2 separate regions of the Homo sapiens genome follow, and region 2 is linked to region 1. Evidence: fine-mapped expression QTL. A gene starts in region 1. The other region holds a variant in brackets. All regions are shown on one strand. Distances are between the middles of the regions.

The links. PIP is the estimated chance that this variant, and not a neighbour inherited with it, causes the effect.
Region 2: its variant is the best candidate, but not a certain one, in a credible set for the expression of BMPR1A in prostate (GTEx, PIP 0.86).

What each region holds. Positions count from the first base shown.
Region 1 is chr10:86,754,101-86,759,476 of GRCh38, forward strand. BMPR1A (bone morphogenetic protein receptor type 1A) reads left to right here and starts at 2,519. Exons shown (of 13, transcript NM_004329.3): 1 at 2,519-2,819. RefSeq lists a silencer at 2,032-3,001.
Region 2 is chr10:86,927,790-86,933,165 of GRCh38, forward strand. BMPR1A (bone morphogenetic protein receptor type 1A) reads left to right here. Exons shown (of 13, transcript NM_004329.3): 13 at 1-180. Among named protein-coding and RNA genes, the nearest start is that of MMRN2, 27 kb to the right of the region's middle. The variant G/T (reference allele first, on the strand shown) is at 2,693.

The DNA.
Region 1 (5,376 bases):
ATACCAACACATTACGGAATGTTAACTGTGGATCCCGAGATGTTGCTTTTGAGTTTGGGGGCCAGAACACACGTGTCCAGATGTCTCCCTGGGCAGACAGACCGGAGAAACGGGCTGGCATGCATAAACATGCCAGTAGCCAGGGAGAACAGCATGCCCCACTAGCTGCTGGTAGCCAGGGCGCTGAGGATTGAAGCCTGGGTACTAGCTGGGCCTTATCAAAGGAGAGCGAAAAATTCCTGAAGATTTGAAAAGGAGAGTCTTTTGCAGAGAAGCAAACATATCACGACTTAAAATTTGATGCTTCAATTTTGCTCTCATTTCTACAGTGGCAGATAACACAAGCCAGGGAATACTCATTTGTACATTTCAGAAACTTGATGTACTAAGGTTCCCACCTGAGATTGTTGTCTATTTTATAGACCAATTCATATGTCTAAAAATCCAACTAGACTATAAAGAGCATAATAACACGCTTGCCATGGTTTTCTCTGCCGACACATTGCTCAGCATACGTCAATGAGAGCTTTGACCAATCAATGTGAATCTCCTTAAGCAAAAGGCCCATCTTTTCCTTTAGAACTAAAGCTGGGGCTGGGCGCAGTGGCTCACGCTTGTAATCCCAGCACTTTGGGAGGCCGAGGCGGGAGGATCACGAGGTCAGGAGATCGAGAACACCTATTAACACGGTGACACCCCGTCTGTACTAAAAATACAAAAAGTTAGCCGGGCGTGGTGGCGGGCGCCTGTAGTCCCAGCTGCTCAGGAGGCTGAGGCAGGAGAATGGCGTGAACCCAGGAGGCGGAGCTTGCAGTGAGCCGAGATGGCGCCACTGCACTTCAGCCTGGGCGACAGAGCGAGACTCCGTCTCAAAAAAAAAAGAACAAAAAAACCCCAAAAAACAAAAAAACTAAAACTGGGTATTATGAAGGAAACTTGAGAAAGAAAAGTGACCAATTTTAGTTGATGCAAGTAATCTCACGTATCCTCTTCTTCCTGCATAGCAAGATACTACAACCCATGACTGTCAAACCTGAGACAGCTGAAGAGCCCAGAAAAAAAGATTAGGGAAGAAAACAGAATTGAAAAATAATTCAGAATGACAGAGGCTATCTGCAGCATTAAGGGCAAAGGCGGGTAAAAGAAGAAAAGGGAGACAGAATAAAAGATAAACCAAAAAATTGAAACAAAATACACGGGAATTCAAACATTTATACCAGAATATAAGGGAATACCCTGGAATCTAAACACCTCTTCAGGCAAGAATGTGTGTCAATACAAATGCCTGGCACATTGTTTTCCTTCCCCCTTTCTTTTTACCCAGTTTACCCAGTTTTAAAAGTGATTTTTTAAAATGCACCTTTAAAAGAACATCTTTTGTTAAGTGACTTAAACTTGATACATTTCTTGGATTACTAAGGAGGTTAAAGTCACATTTGGTGAAAAAGGGGCCTATCTCCTCTTTCCTCACATACGGGTCATCGAATACTTTTAAAAGCATTTTCCACCATGAATGAGGGGAAATGGAAGAAAAGAGGTGGTGACAATTATTTGCATTTTCCAAATGGACGGAATGAGCCTCCGGAGGGTACACGAGGTCACCAGCGTGAGCCCGCGGTGGAGCTGGAGGCGTATTTATAGCTGGCTGACCTCAGTCCTGTTGGGCCCTCGCCGCTCCTTATCTTATGCCGCTGGAATTCGCGGGCTCGCAGGTCACAGGAGCCCGGGCGCGCCGGGCCTGGCGCTCCCGAATCGATGAGGGAAGCCGCTCTCCCCGGCAGATCCTCCCGGCCGGGGAGCCTCCATCACCCTGCCTGCGCCTCGGCACGCTGGCAAGGAGCCCGGGAAGAGACGCCGGGAGCGGTGGGTGGGCGAGAAACAAATGCAATGTGACTTATATTTTTCTTTGTCGCAACTACCACGACCTGGCCATCCCCCACCTTGGTGACTTGGTGCCTTCCCAGCGACCTTATTTCACGCCAGCTGACTGGCGTTCACCGCAGTGTGAGTGTCGGCCGGAGGAGGGGTCCACGCGAAAGAGCCCGCGAGAGTGGGGATATCCGGCCCCGAAGGCCGGAGCGGGCGTCCAGGGCGCCGATGGCCGCAGCGCCCGGCAGCCGTGTCCACGCTCCCCTCCGCCGCGTTCCATCGCGTGCTACCTACGGCGTCTGCGGGAAGCTACCCGGGCGGCAGCTGTGGGGCTGGCTTGTGGGGAGGGGCCGGCGGGCCCGCGCGGAGGAGCAGCCCCGACTCCCGCCCGCACCAGCAGCTCGGCGCCCCCTTGCCGGCGGCTGGCCCTCCTCCCCGGCAACTGGGCGCCGGGCTCCGCGAACTCTTCGGGCGCTTCCGCCGTGCGCTCGGCTCTTTTCGTGTCCGGGGCGGGGCGGGGCAGGCGCCCGTGGTCGGGTGCGCGCGGCGCGGGCGGGGGCCTTCCCAGTGCGCGCGCGCCGTGCAAGGCCCGCGGACGCCCGCCCCTCCCCCAGGCCCCCGCACCCGCGCCGCCCCCTCCCCTCCTGGCAAGAGTCGGCGGCGGTGGCGGCGGCCGCTGCAGAGATTGGAATCCGCCTGCCGGGCTTGGCGAAGGAGAAGGGAGGAGGCAGGAGCGAGGAGGGAGGAGGGCCAAGGGCGGGCAGGAAGGCTTAGGCTCGGCGCGTCCGTCCGCGCGCGGCGAAGATCGCACGGCCCGATCGAGGGGCGACCGGGTCGGGGCCGCTGCACGCCAAGGGCGAAGGCCGATTCGGGCCCCACTTCGCCCCGGCGGCTCGCCGCGCCCACCCGCTCCGCGCCGAGGGCTGGAGGATGCGTTCCCTGGGGTCCGGGTGAGTTGGGAGTGCGCGTGCGGACCGGAGGGGCTGGCCGCAGCGGGGAGGCCAGAGGGGCTCGGGCGAGGCTGCAGAGGCAGCTGGGCGCGCGGTGGCCGGAGCCAGGGGCTGCCCGGCCCGGCCCCGGCAGCTCCGCAGGCCTCGGCGCGCGCTGGGCCGGGACCGCCCAGCCAGAGACCCACGGCACCCCGCGCCGCGTCCCCCGCCGGCCCCTCTTTTGTCTCCCACTCGCGGGTTGCAGGCCGAGTTTGGGGATGCGGAGTGGGCGAAAGTCGCTCCGGGGACGCTTCTGGAATCCTTAAATGGGAAAGGCGCTCACCTCCCCGCCCCGGAGCGGCGAGGCTGATATTTGTGATTTGGCTCCGGACGCTGTGGGGAGGAACAGGGGAGAACAAAATGAGTTTCGGGCGGGGGTCGAGTGAGAGGAGCAGCCGGCCCGCCCCCGAGTCCCCGCGGGAAGGGGCCCTGGCCCCCGAGCTCCCGGAGCTGCTTCACCTGTTGTCCTGCGCGGCCTCCGCTCCGTGGCCTGGTGATTCCGTACTTCAGTTTTGGAAAACTTTCTGCTGGATTGCCTGGACCCTTTTTTCTCTTTCCAGACTCCTAGTGGAAAGATTTGGCAAGGAAAAAAAAATGAGCTTGCGTCAGGGAAGAAAAATAATATGCTGTGTGTTAGGGTCTGGCGTTTGAGCGTGGTACTCTTTCATGCTCTCAGATGTTTTAATTTGGTCAAACTCCTGCAGGTTTTCTCTTTTAAGCGGTTAACAAACTGTTCAGAGTACATAGTATGAACTTGGCACCTGTGTTACGTCATTTAATCCTTACAACGATTCTGGTTTATTGTATTCCTCATTGTTTTAGGGGAAGAAACCGAGTCGCAAAGAGGTTAACTAACTTGTCTAAGGGAGCTGGGATTTGAACCCAGGAACATCGTATTCTGGCAAACGAATTAGGAAGAAAAAAAACCAAAACTGTTTGCAAACACTTTTACGTTTAGGAACATTTTTCAGTTACTCTTACTTGAAATTATCGCTATTTTGTTGCTGGAGTTGAAAACAACTACTTTATTGTATTTACTTGTGAGAGGAGTTAAACTTTGAATTAGAGTGTAACTTAATGCGTCTCATTGTTTTCAGTTGTTGAAATAAAGAATGTGAACCAGAATTATTTAGATTTTTAAATTTGAAGCTAAAATATGGGCAATTCTCTGATCTAGGAATGGGGTGAGTGTATGAAAGGCCGATTGAAATGTAGAATGCGTTTTTAGTAGAACCAGACTCAGTTCTTGTTTAATTTTTCCTCCATTTTCCGTGGAGCCCACTTTAAACTTTTTCTACTTTCTTCACTTCTCCCCACCCTTTACAGAAGAGGTTGAGGCACTTAGCAGGAGCTCCTTCATTAAATTCCTTCTGTTACTGGCTTCTTAACCTTCCGTCAAAGAGGGAGAATTTTTTTTTTTTTTTTTGTCTTTCTTATTAGTTAACACCTTGGGGTTTTTTTCCTTTCCTTCTAATTTTCCTGCTTAGTGGAGCGTGAGTTATTTTCTCTGTCGTATTTGGGTTCTTTAAAGTACAAATGTTCTTAAGATTTTTTCAGTTTACAAAAACCTTTTCTTAAGTCTGCTACTCCTTCAAGCTGTCTTGTTGCTGCTTTTCCTTTTCAAATCTTATTAACATTTTAAAAAGCTTGTTCGTAATAAAAGTAACACATGGTTGTTAATTGCGAACTAGCGCAACATTGAAATTAAAATTTAGTCATTCACAATCCATCTCTAGAGATTGCCAAGTGTAGTCTGCTTTTCCTGCCTTTGCCTGGTTGGTGGCTAGCCACTCATTTCTTAACCCCTTGTTATCTGGATTTCACCTTCACAAGGAACTATAACCTAATCAACACATTTAACTACCTTTTTCTAAGTCCTCTCCTTGAGTTTTCTGTAAGATTTAACATCGACTTCACATTTTCAGATGCCTCTCCTTGGGTTTCATTCATCTATACTCGCTGTATTCTAACACAGGGTCCAAGGCAGTAAGATACAACAGATCCTTCCCTCATGGAGCTTAAAGTCTAGTGGGGAAATACTTATTGAAAAATAAAGTCTCTAGTTAAATATAATTGTGATTTTAATTAAGGTGCAGAATATTATAAGAACTTCAAATGGAGACCTGATCTGGTGCTTGTGGTGGTGGGAGAATCTGGGAAAGATACCTTAAAATTGCTTTGTTGGAACCCAGGCAGATTGTGAAGGATGAGCAAGAGTTAACTATTAACTAGATGAAGAGGGGCCTTTTGTGACATTATACTGACTTTGTTCCTCTCCGCCACTTTTCTGCCTTCTGTTTCTTCTTTCCTCTTTAATATGCGTTCTCCAAGTTTCACTTTTCAGATCACTTTTCTCTATGTCTCTAGTCCCTTAGAATGATTGTTCAGACCTTTCTGTTGGAATAATTCTCAATTCTTTGTTTATGTGTCTTCTGAATCACGTTTTTTTGTTTGTTTGTTTTGTTTTTTCTTTTTTATTCAGTTGCTTTCTACATATCTGTACCTGATTGTTCTGAGC
Region 2 (5,376 bases), 170 kb after region 1:
TATCAGGCAGTTGTAAAACACCAAAAATATAGATTCGTCTTTGACGTGTAACACACTAAATGTATTTTGTACAGCATCTGGTTTAAAAGGTGCCTTAAGAGTTTACCATTACTTGCTTTGTTCTATATACAGATTATGTCCAATGTATCATTTTGAAGTAAATAACCTTATTTTAGTATACTTTAGTGATGTGTTTTGTGATGCTACACTCAGACGGTATTGTGCATCAGAAGTCATCTGTTGAGATTTTTGTAATGATTAAGTTAGTGTATATACATATGTTCCTGAGATGTACACTTCAACTACCAGAAACCCAGTATGGAGCACAGGTAGGTACACGCTTGCCCTGTGGAGATAGAGAACTTCTAAACCTATCACGGTGCAGGGGTTTTTCCTTTAAAAAACAAGACAAAACATTGTTTTCTTTTTCCTTTTTTTTTTTTTTTTTTTGAGACGGAGTTTTGCTCTTGTTGCCCAGGCTGGAGTGCAATGGCACGATCTCAGCTCACTGCAACCTTTGCCTCCTGGGTTCAAGCAATTCTCCTGCCTCAGCCTCCCGAATAGCTGGAACTACAGGTGTTTGCCACCATGCCTGGCTAATTTTTTGTATTTTTAATAGAGACAGGGTTTCACCATGTTGGCCAGGCTGGTCTCGAACTCCTGACCTCAGGTGGCCCACTTGCCTTGGCCTCCCAAAGTGCTGAGCTTACAGGCATGAGCCACCATGCCTGGCCAAAACATTGTTTTCTGATTATGGAAATGTACTCATGGCAGAAAATTTGGGAAACAACAGCAAATAATAAAGCAAATAAAAATCACTCAAAATTCTATTGCCAGACATTATCACTATATACATTTGAGTGTTTCTTTTCAATCTTTTTTTTTGAGAGAGTCTTGCTCTGTCACTCAGGGTGGAGTGCAGTAGCGCGATCTCGGCTCAGTGCAACCTCTGCCCCCTGGGTTCAAGTGATTCTCCTGCCTCAGCCTCCCAAGTAGCCGGGATTACAGGTGTGCACCACCACGCCCGGCTAATTTTTGTATTTTAGTAGAGATGCGGTTTCACCATGTTGGCCCAGGCTGGTCTCGAACTCCTGACCTCAAGTGATCTGCCTACCTCAGCCTCCCAAAGTGCTGGGATTACAGGAGTGAGCCACTGCACCCGGCCTTATTCTTTTTTATGTTGCATTTTTTGTAATATTAGGATCCTAGTATGCCATTAAATAGCCATTGAGAACTTTTTTTTTAATGACTGCACAATATTTGACTAAGAAGATGGAGTAATTTCTGTGCTCAATCCCCTATTGAATATTTGGATTATTTTCATTGTTTTGAAAAATAGATATTAAGCATCCTTATACATAAATCTTTATTTTCTTATATTACATTTCTGAAAATGAGACTAGTGGATATGAACTTTTAAAAGATCCTTTAAGATGGAAAAACTAAGGTTCTTGGAAAACATTGCCATATTGCTACTCACAAAGCTTTTCATTTTCATTCCTGCTAGCAGTTCATGAGCTTAGAGCGATGGGATGCATTTACCTGGCCTTAAGATGCTCCTGCTGCAATGGGAAGTGAAGCCTTGGATAGCTTTCCTCCTCCTGTGCAATACTTTCTTGTCATTTTCCCACCTGCACTGAGTCCCACCGCCAGTCAGGGCTGTTTTCAGGTGTATGTGAATTCATCCCAGCAGTGTGCCTTCTGCTGCCTTTTCCTAGGGAACTGAACATGTTAAATCACAGACGCGATGTGGCACTGATTATTGTTCCTCAAAAGAAATGCGTGTCTGAAGATAGCCTCTTACAGATTCCTCACGGGAGTCTCTGTTCAGTGTCATTGTAAGTTTCTCAGAATAATCGCAGGCGCTCTGATGCAGCCTGGTAAAGAAGACTCAGTGATTTCTGGGAACTGCAAATGCTTGCCAGCTTTCCTTCTGTCTGTGGAAACACTGAATAAATGTATTCATTTCTCCTTTCCAGCAATCTGTTAGTCTCACTGCTCCATTCCAAGGTTTCTTTAATATTATTAACAGAGCAGACATTAAGAAACAGAATTGTCTAATCCTTGTTCTTCCAAAATAGGTTTAATCCTTGTAGATAGTTTCAAGCAGACAGTAAGTCAGTTACTAAGTTTTCACTTGGAGAAACATTTGCTGATAGTAGTAGCATATTGACCATTTCTGACATGTCATCCTTATATCAAGTTAGGTGCACGCTCCTACACAGCCTTGGCTCAGCGCTTGGAGCATACAGTCTTGACTGGGTGGACATAAACCGCTGAAAGTGGCCAGCAGTGAGCAGAGGCCACCTACTATCAGCGGCACTGCTGCAGGCATGGAGACTTAAATGTGTGAGTGCTGGTATAAGCAGAAGTGGGAGAGTCACCTCGATGCTGGGATCCAGATGGCGGCTTATTTCAAGTGCAGTGGCACATACAAAAAATATTTTTGGAAGGGAGCAAGGACTAGGGCTGAAAGGTTCATTCATAATCTTTTTTTCTTTTTTTTTTTAGGTGGAGTCTCGCTCTGTCACCCAGGCTGGAGCGCAATGGGGTGATCCCAGCTCACTGCAACCTCCACCTCCCGGGTTAAAGCAATTCTCCTGCCTCAGCCACCTGAGAAGTTGGGATTACAGGCGTGCACCACCACACTCAGCTAATTTTGTATTTTTAGTAGAGACGGGGTTTACCATGT[G/T]GGCCAGGCTGGTCTCGAACTCCCAACCTCAGGTGATCTGCCCACCTTGGCCTTCCAGAGTGCTGGGATTATAGGCGTGAGCCACTGCGCCCAGCCCATAATCTCCTTTTGACATAGGAATTGTTAATTCACATATTCCATCAACCTATTGCTCCTCTGAATCTTAGCAGCTTCTTGGTCTTTGTTCAAATGAAATCTAAGTCAATTCCATATCTCTCAATGTCGCTACATCCACCTCAGTGCTTATATCCTAATTTTGTCTTTTTTAGAGACAGTCTTGCACTGTCACCCAGGCTAGTGTGCAGTGGCTGTTCACAGGCATAATCATAACGCACTGTAGCCTCAAACTCCTGATCTCAAGCCATCCTCCCACCTCAGCCTCCTGAGTAGCTGGGACCATGCCACCATGCCTGGCTCACATTCTAAACATTATGCAGGAAGCTCAAAGTGAAAATCAATATGGAATGTTTATATTGAAAATATTTTTGGCTGGGTGCAGTGGCTAATGCCTCTAATCCCAGCACTCTGGGAGGCTGAGGCGGGCAGACCACCTGAGGTCAGGAGCAGCCTGGCCAACATATAGTGAAACCCTGTCTCTAAGGTACAAAAATTAGCTGGGTGTGGTGGTACTCGCCTGTAGTCCCAGCTCCTTGGGAAGCTGAGGCAGGAGAATCACTTGAACCCAGGAGGCGGAGGTTGCAGTGAGCTGAGATCGCACCACTGCATTCCAGGCTGGGCAACAGAGCAAGACTCCGTCTCTCAAAAAAAAAAAAAGAAAAAAAAATATATATATATATATACACACACACACACACACATATATATATATATATTCAAGCAATGTGAAGAAAATATTGGGCCCCCTTGTTTTTCTTTAATGGAAGAGCCATTTTTAAAAGCCAGTTTAGAATCCAGATGATGACATCTGTTGCTCTACTGTATGACTGAAATGCAGGTCAGTGTTGAAAAACATAAAAAATTGGAAGTCTCCACTGAAAGACCTACACTGCTGTGGGAGGGATTTTAATCAAGACATTTCAAAAGCAATTTTTATTACTTGATCCTGTCCTCATACTTGGCTAGGAGTTCAGCTGGAGATAGAATCTAACTCTGAAGATGATACTCCATGATCTTCTAGCATCCCTTGTCACCAGTGAGAAGTCTGATGTGGATCTAATAAGTGACATGTTATACAGGTTAACTTATTTTCAAGAAATAGAATTTTCTTTTTATTATTGATGTTGGAAGTTGAAACTGGCCATATCTAAATATATTCATTCTGTTTCTTAGTACTAATGGGATCTTTTCTTAGACCTGGGAAATTTTCTCCCATTATTTCTTTTGTTTCTTCCCTTTTTTCTTTCTTTTCCTTTTCTCTTTCTAGAACTTTCTAGAACAAATCTCAGGTCCCCTAGATGTTTCTTCCATAATTGTTACTATGCTTCTCATATGTTTCATCCTACCTTCTACTTTTGTCAGCCCATCTGAGTTTATTTCAACAGCCAAATGTTTTATTTTGAAATGATTCCAGGCTTCCATTAAAGTTTCATCAATAGTATAAGGACTGCCATTTACCCTTCACCCAGATTCATAAACTGCTAACATTGCACAATTGCTTTGTCATTCTGTGTGTGTGTGTACAGGAATCACAGAGACTCATCTTGTAATGTTTGTAATGTCCATGTATCGTGTATGCACACATTTTTTTCTGACCTATTAGAAGCAAATTACAGAGCTAATACCCCTTTATCCCTAAATACTTCAGGGATGTTCTATTACTTAACCAATTATGTACAATTATCAGAACCAGGAAAGTTCACATTGATACAATAGCAATGACCAACAATACCATAATCTATAGACCTTACTGAAGTTTTGCTAATTGTTATTTTGGTGTGGTTGGGTTTTTTGTTTGTTTGAGATAGGGTCTCACTCTGTCACCCAGGCTGGAGTACAGTGGCACAGTCATAGCTCACTTCAACCTCAAACTTTGGGCCTCAAGCGATCCTCCCGCCTCAGCCTCCCAAAGGGCTATGATTACAGGCATGAGCCACCATGCTGGCCTCATTTCCCCTTTCCTTCTCAAAAGGATTCTGGCTTTCCCTACTGCATTCATCCACGTCCACTACCCGCTCCAAGAGAGCTGAGTAATTGTCAAGCCAGGTTTGGGGAGCTTTCTTGATGGAGGGGATGGAAGGAGGGTGGTGCTCAGGCTACAGCAGGGAGAGCTTTTCTGTTTTTGAGCTAAAGACATAACAGGGTGCAGAGGCTGAGAAAAGGAGAGTTCTAAGCAACATGTCACGAGCTATGTAGCCTCTTCACACTGCTTCTGAAATAAAATCTAACAGTAGGAGTGACTTTGACATTATGTTGTGGTTTCTGCAGACAACTTGGGATTGGCCCCTGTGGGTTTGTTAAGGGCATGTTTGTCAGAGTATGGGGGCTCCCTGCTTCCAGAGGCCCAGCAGCTGCTGTGTACCTGGGGTTCAGGGCTGACGGCAGGGCTGGAGTTCTGGCACACAGTGACCCCAAGTGTGTTTATTTTTTTCCTTGTGGTGATGGTTGAACTGTTTTAGGGTTGGTTTTTGTTATTGTTTTTTTTCAACTTTTATTTTAGATTCAGGGGCTACATGTACAGATCTGTTACCTAGGTATGTTGTGTGATGCTAAGGTTTGTGGTATGA